Homo sapiens: one gene and its partner. The protein of the gene in region 1 interacts with the protein of each later gene in a pairwise test. Each region holds a gene or a part of one and is shown in the gene's direction. Other genes may lie near its edges.

Region 1 (3,843 bases):
TGCAATGTGGCTTCAGGGCAGGGTGGCCAGGCGTCAGGCTCTGACTTTCCTCCTTGTCCTCCATTGTCCCTGACAGTGGGAAGGTACGAGGGAACAAAGCTTTCAAGGTGGAGTGGCTGTTGGGAACTGTATAAAGGAGACAGGACACTTCTTCCTTTCATGGGTCACAGACTAATCTGGCTGTTTGACCCACATAGTGCCTTTAAAGCAGGGGTGTCCAATCTTTTGCCTTCCCTGGGCCACACTGGAAGAATTGTCTTGGGCCACACATAAAATACGCTAACACTAACAACAGCCGATGAGCTTAAAAAAAAAAATTGCAAGGCTGGGCGCAGTGGCTCCCGCCTGTAATCCCAGCACTTTGGAAGGCCAAGGCGGGCAGATTACCTGAGGTCAGGAGTTCGAGATCAGCCTGGCCAACATGATGAAACCCCATCTCTACTAAAAAATACAAAAATTAGCTGGGCGTGGTGTCACATGCCTGTAATCCCAGCTACTCGGGAGGCTGAGGCAGGAGAATCACTTGAACCCAGGAGGCGGAGGTTGCAGTGAGTTGAGATTGTGTCACTGCACTCCAGCCTGGGCGACAGAATGAGACTGACTCAAAAAAAAAAATTTTGCAAAAAAACCTCAGTGATTTTTTGAGACAGAGTCTCTATCACCCAGGCTGGAGCACAGGCACATGCCACCACACCCGGCTAATTTTTTGTATTTTTAATAGAGACGGGGTTTCACCATGTTAGCCAGGATGGTCTCAATCTCCTGACCTCATTATCCGCCTGCCTCATCCTCCCAAAGTGCTGGGATTACAGGCGTGAGCCACCGTGCCCAGCCCTCAGTGATGTTTTAAGAAAGTTTAGGAATTTGTGTTGGGCCACATTCGAAGTCATACAGCCTCGGATTGTTGCACAAGCTTGCTTTAACAAGATTCATACTGTTGCCAAACACATATAACGGATCTCCATAGAAGTCCAGTGGTCCAGCTTCTCTTGAAAAACCAAAAGTCCGGCCGGGCGCGGTAGCTCACGCCTGTAATCCCAGTACTTTGGGAGGCCGAGGCGGGTGGATCACGAGGTCAGGAGATCAAGACCATCCTGGTTAATGCGGTGAAACCCCGTCTCTACTAAAAATACAAAAAATTAGCCGGGCATAGTGGCGGGCACCTGTAGTCCCAGCTACTCAGGAGGCTGAGGCAGGAGAATGGCATGAACCCGGGAGGCGGAGTTTGCAGTGAGCCGAGATTGCGCCACTGCGCTCCAGCCTGGGCGACAGAGCGAGACTCCGTCTCAAAAAAAAAAAGAAAAAAAGAAAAACCAAAAGTCCTGGCAATACCAAAACCTGTGTTTTCTTTCTTTTTGTTATTTTTTGTTTTGGTTTTGTTTTTTTGAGACAGAGTCTCACTCTATCACCCCAGCTGGAGTGCAGTGGCCAGATCTCGGCTCACTGCATCACCTCCCGGGATCAAGCTATTCTGCCTCAGCCTCCCGAGTAGCTGGGATTACAAGTGTGCACCATGCCCAGCTAATTTTTGTATTTTTAGTAGAGACAGAGTTTCACCATGTTGGCCAGGCTGGTCTCGAACTCCTGACCTCAGGTGATCCGCCCGGCCTTAGCCTCCTAAAGTGCTGGCATTAGAGGCGGGAGCCACTGCACCTGGCCAAAACCTGTGTTTTGGAAGGGCAGGCAAGAAGGGGCAGATGTTGCAGCCCACCCCAGATGGCTCCCCTCCTCTTTCTCCTCACCTCCTGGCCTCAGAGCAATCCGGGAGGATGAGAGAGACTCCTCTGGTGTCCAGACACCACTGGGCTTCCTGGGGTCTAGACAGCAGCTTGTCACATTTCCAGAGAGCTGACGCCACTGGAGGAGGCCTCCCTGCAGAATCAGAAGCTGAAGGCTGCGTATGAGGCCCGAATGGCGCGGCTAGACCCCAGCCAGGCCATGCAGAAGACATCCCTGGTGAGTGGGGGCTAGGGAGGGCCTGGGGGTGCGTGGGCGCGGGGCAGAGGGGAGTCGGCCTTACTCCCTCCTCCCCCCCCAGACCCTCTCTCTACAGCGGCAGATGATGGAGAACCTAGTGATTGCCAAAGCCCGGGAGGAGACAGCAGCCTTTCTGACCGCCCTGGTGGTCCCCGAGGGGAAACTCAGTGTGGCCTTGAGCCAAGGGCAGAGAAGGGGGCAGCGAGGGGAGCGGAGGTTCCGGGGTCGGGGTACAGGGCCGAGGGGCTCCCCGCTTTGCAGAGGCAGGGTCTCAGGGGAAGGCCCGGCCGCCGTCCCCCATGTTCTCTGGCCCGGCCCTCCTGGCTTGAGCGCAGGCTGCCTTCTGCCCCAGAAGCCTTACCTGGGGACAGCCCCTCACCGAGAGGAGGTCCCTGGGACGTCCCGGCCTCTCCGGGTGTGGGACGGGGTTGGGAACCGAGGGCCCGCTCAGATCCCACGCTCGGCCCCTTGACTCTGCACCCAGCTCCAGAGAAAGATGGAGGAGCGCCGGCTGCGGCTCCAGGAGGCCGCCAACAGGTGGGACTCCTGCCCGCCCCTGGGGCCGCTGCGGGGAGGGCCTGGCCCCGGCACCCACCGCGTGCCTTTCTCCCCAGGAGGTTTTGCAGCCAAGTCGCCCTGACCCCGGAGGAACGGGAGCAGCGGGCCCTTTACGCCGCCATCCTGGAGTACGAACAGGACCATGTGCGTCCCCCACGGGCCCAGGCTTTGTAGGAGGAGCCCAGCGAGGGGGGCGGGGTCAGAGCCGCCTGGGTGGGCCCCCGTGGGGGGCGGAGCCAGAGGCTGTGGGGGGCAGTGAGGGGGCGGGGCCAGAGGCCCGTGGGAGGGCCCGGTGAGGGGGCGGGGCCAGGGCTGCGTGGGGCGGGGCAGAGCGAGGAGGCGAGGTCAGGGGTCGCGTGGGAGGGTCCCAGCGAGGAGGGAGGGTCCCTGCGAGGAGGGAGGGTCCCAGCGAGGGTGCAGGCCCAGGGTTCGCCTAAGGTTTCCCTCGGGTGTGGGTGGGGGCGGGGGCGGGTCGCGGGGCCTGCTGGCGCTGGGTCTCCTGCACCCCAGGACGGGCTCCCACAGTCTCTAGGGGTCGGCACTGGTGGGAGATGAGGCGCGTCCGGTCGTGGCGGACCCACCGTGCTTTCCTTCAAGGCCCCCTGTCCCGTAGGACTGGCCGAAGCACTGGAAGGCCAAGCTCAAGAGGAATCCGGGGGACCTGTCACTCGTGACCAGCCTGGTCTCACACCTGCTCAGGTAGCTGGGCCTTCAGGCCCCACAGAGCCCCTGCGCACCGGCCTTGGGCACCTCTGCCTGGTGCCAGGTGCCGGAGAGGGGCTGGACTGACACAGGGAGCCTGTGCCCGGCCACGTGGACACTGCAGCTCCCTTTGCGCTGAGGGCGTTTCCTCGGCTTCTCCAACCTCCCCAGCGGGGGCGGGGGGCAGACTTTCCAACATTCACTGTCAGGAGGTAATGCAAGTCGCTTCTCTGAAACCGGGCATAGCGCGGCACCTGTGGATGCCACGGAGAGGCCGAGGCTGGCCGCGTTCTCACGTCCTCTTCTCCCGCAGCCTCCCCGACCACCCGATCGCGCAGCTCCTGAGGCGGCTGCAGTGCTCCGTGTACAGCGCCCTGTATCCCGCCGTGAGCAGAGCAGCCGCGCCAGCCCCAGGCTGCTGCCCCCCGACCCCCAACCCCGGAAGCCGACGGCTGCGGCCCTCGCAGAGCCTCCATTGCATGCTGTCCCCGCCCGAGCCCAGCGCAGCCCCGCGGCCCCAGGACAGTCCCCCCACGCCCCCACTCCAACCCGGCCCCGTGGGGTCTCCCTCACCCCTGGGGGACACCGCATCTGGATTGCCAGACA
Region 2 (3,500 bases), about 71 Mb from region 1:
CTGTAATCCCAGCACTTTGGGAGGCCGAGGCGGGAGGATCACCTGAGGTCAGGACTTCGAGACCAGCCTGGCTAACATGGTGAAACCCCATCTCTACTAAAAATACAAAATTAGACGGGCATGGTAGCGCATGCCTGTAATCCCAGCTACCTGGGAGGCTGAGGCAGGAGAATCGGTTGAACCCGGGAGGTGGAGGTTGCAGTGAGCCGAGATTGCACCACTACACTCCAGCTCAGGCAACAAAAATGAAACTCTGTCTCAAAAAAAAAAAAAAAAAGAGAGAGAGGATTTAAAGTATCTCACTAAAATATTTTTATATTGGTTCCATGTTGAAATGAGTATACATTGGATATAGTGGGTTAAATAAAATAAAATATTAAAATTAATTTTGCAGGCTGGGCGCGGTGGCTCACGCCTGTAATCCCAGCACTTTGGGAGGCCGAGGCAGGCAGATAGCTTGAGGCCAGGAGTTCAAGACCATCCTGGCCAACATGATGAAATTCCATCTCTATTAAAAATGCAAAAATGGGCCAGGTGTGGTGGTATACAACTGTAGTCCCAGCTACTTGAGAGGCTGAGCCATGAGATTCACTTGCACCTGGAAGGTGGAGGTTGCAGTGAGCCGAGATCCGCCACTGCACTCCAGCCTGGACGATAGAGCAAGACTCTGTCTCAAAATAAATAAATAAAATTAAATGAATTTTGCCCTTTTATTTGCATATTTTAAAAGTCGTGGCTGCCAGAACATTTTAAGTTACATGTGTGGCTTGCATTTCTGGCTTGCGTTATCTTTCTATGGACAGTGTGGGCCTAGGTAATTTCTAAGTCTCATGCCCAGCTCTGAACACAGGTTATCTCCATTTAGCATACATCTATCAGAGTACCTCCCATGCCTCTGGCAAATGTCTCATAAAGACAACTGTTTGGGCAATTAGCAAGAATGCCATGAGCTCATTGCTAGAAGAGAGGGATGTGCAAAGGTTGGAATAATGAACTTGGGATCAATGCATTCTGCTGGTTCATGGAAGGGAGAGAGGCGGCCCGTAAGCGGTGAGGTTTGAATATGAACCTTGAAGAAGTACAGTCGTTCCCATTTATTGGTCTGTGCCTACGGGCACATTCTGTGCCATGCTCTTTTCATGCCCTGGCTCAGTGAATCTTCACCACATTCTTTGAGGTAGGTGCCGTTATTGACTCTATTTTACTGATGGGAAAACAGAGTCCCAGAGAGTCAAAAGAATATGCCCGGAGTCACATGGCTCACTGGTAATGAGTACACGAGTAGTGAGTAAGTGGCTGAGATGGAATTCCACCCAGGCACTCTGGTCCCAGAGCTCACTCTCTTAAAGTGGAGACATCGTAGGATAATGGTTAGAGCCAGACTCTGGGGTCAGCTAGACCAGCCTGACCCCTGGCTCCTACACTTGCAAGTGTGTGACCTTCAGAAAGTTACTTAAAGCTTCTGTTTCCTCGTCTATAAAGTGGGGATAATAGTAATTATCTAATAATTCAAGGGGATGTGAAGATTGTGATTGCACATATGCGATGATGTAGTGTACACAGTCCATTAGAGCAGTGCCTGGCACTTAGCTGCTGTGATGATGGCAAGGTGTCAATAGTGCCACCAAACTATCTGTCACAGAATCAGTGAGTATTTCAGAGTGTGGAGAAAGATGGCAAAGGTCATTCTGAAGCAGAGTAAACAATGCAAGAATCTGCTTACCTGCAAAGTGGCCCAGGTCTGCCCCGTATGTGGCTGTCTTCATTGTTATTTCTGGTGGCTCTCAGGTCTTGAGTCAAGACGTCCCAGCTCTCCACTCATCGATATTAAACCCATCGAGTTTGGCGTTCTCAGCGCCAAGAAGGAGCCCATCCAACCTTCGGTGCTCAGACGGACCTATAACCCCGACGACTATTTCAGGAAGTTCGAACCCCACCTGTACTCCCTCGACTCCAACAGCGACGATGTGGACTCTCTGACAGACGAGGAGATCCTGTCCAAGTACCAGCTGGGCATGCTGCACTTCAGCACTCAGTACGACCTGCTGCACAACCACCTCACCGTGCGCGTGATCGAGGCCAGGGACCTGCCACCTCCCATCTCCCACGATGGCTCGCGCCAGGACATGGCGCACTCCAACCCCTACGTCAAGATCTGTCTCCTGCCAGACCAGAAGAACTCAAAGCAGACCGGGGTCAAACGCAAGACCCAGAAGCCCGTGTTTGAGGAGCGCTACACCTTCGAGATCCCCTTCCTGGAGGCCCAGAGGAGGACCCTGCTCCTGACCGTGGTGGATTTTGATAAGTTCTCCCGCCACTGTGTCATTGGGAAAGTTTCTGTGCCTTTGTGTGAAGTTGACCTGGTCAAGGGCGGGCACTGGTGGAAGGCGCTGATTCCCAGTTCTCAGGTAAGGGATGGGTTTGTGGTGTTTCCTCCTGGGAGCTTTTTTAAAAAGTGATTATTTTTATTTTATTTTACTGTTTAAAAGGCTTTTTTGGATTTTTAAAACTTTTTATTTTGAAATAATTTTTGACTCACAAGAGGTTGCAAAAATAGCAGAGAGTTCCTGTGTCCTCTTGATCCAGCATGATAGCATCTTACGCAACCAGGAAATAGATGTTGGTAACTAACCTAGAGCTTACTCAGATTTCAGTAGTTTTTTTTTTTTTTTGAGACGCTCTGTCACCCAGGCTGGAGCGCCGTGGCGTGATCTTGGCTCACTGCAAACTCCACCTCCCAGGTTCACGCCATTCTCCTGCCTCAGCCTCCTGAGTAGCTGGGACTATAGGCGCCCGCCACCACGCCCTGCTAATTTTTTTGTATTTTTTTTTTTTTTAGTAGAGATGAGGTTTTCCGTGTTATCCAGGATGGTCTCGATCTCCTGACCTCAAGATTTCACTACTTTTTACATGCATCACTCATGTGTGTGTCTTTCTGTGAAAATTTATCACATGTATAGATTCCTGTAACCACCACCACTCTGGAAGCCTTTTTTAAATCATCGATGCTGAGTTATTTAATAAGGAGAATGATTGCACAGGGTATAAAGCTATCAATCATTTTGACTTTCAGAAATTGATTTTTTTGGGGAAAAAGTGAAGGCTGGAAAACAGGATGATGCATGGATGTTTTTCAGGCCAACTGTTAGATTGGCTTCCTTCCCCCTGTCCAGCCCAGGGAAATGTGGTTGGCTGCTCGGGAAGCCACCCACGGACCAGGCTGTGTCTCCAGTCGGCTGTTGTGCATTCCTGCATATTAGAGGGTAACTGTCTACCCATTGTAGGTAGAAGGATGTGGGGAGCCCAAGGAAAGGAAAAGACCCAGCCACTCCTTCCTCCTTCCCTCCCTTCCCGCTTCTCTCTTCACTCCCTCCCTCCCTTCCTTCCCTGCTACCCTCTTCCCTCCCTTTCTCCCTCCTTCCCCTCCTTCCTCCCTCCCCTCCTCCCCTCTTCCCTTCCTTCTCTCCCTGTCCTGTGGGATGGCTGTTGTAGGAACAGGG

The links. Proteins that work in one complex are often made in the same cells at the same time.
Region 2: the proteins of VPS9D1 (region 1) and SYT17 interact in binary tests that used the Homo sapiens proteins (3 or more experiments, as listed by UniProt).

Annotation. Positions count from the first base shown.
Region 1 is NC_000016.10:89,710,718-89,714,560, reverse strand, and holds part of VPS9D1 (VPS9 domain-containing protein 1), read left to right. Parts: intron 1-1,742; exon of another isoform or gene 1,743-1,844; coding exon 1,845-1,956; intron 1,957-2,038; coding exon 2,039-2,101; intron 2,102-2,338; exon of another isoform or gene 2,339-2,461; coding exon 2,462-2,514; exon of another isoform or gene 2,515-2,591; coding exon 2,592-2,679; exon of another isoform or gene 2,680-2,705; intron 2,706-3,148; coding exon 3,149-3,234; intron 3,235-3,550; coding exon 3,551-3,843.
Region 2 is NC_000016.10:19,181,740-19,185,239, forward strand, and holds part of SYT17 (synaptotagmin-17), read left to right. Parts: intron 1-1,723; exon of another isoform or gene 1,724-1,788; coding exon 1,789-2,408; intron 2,409-3,500. UniProt on the Homo sapiens protein: Plays a role in dendrite formation by melanocytes.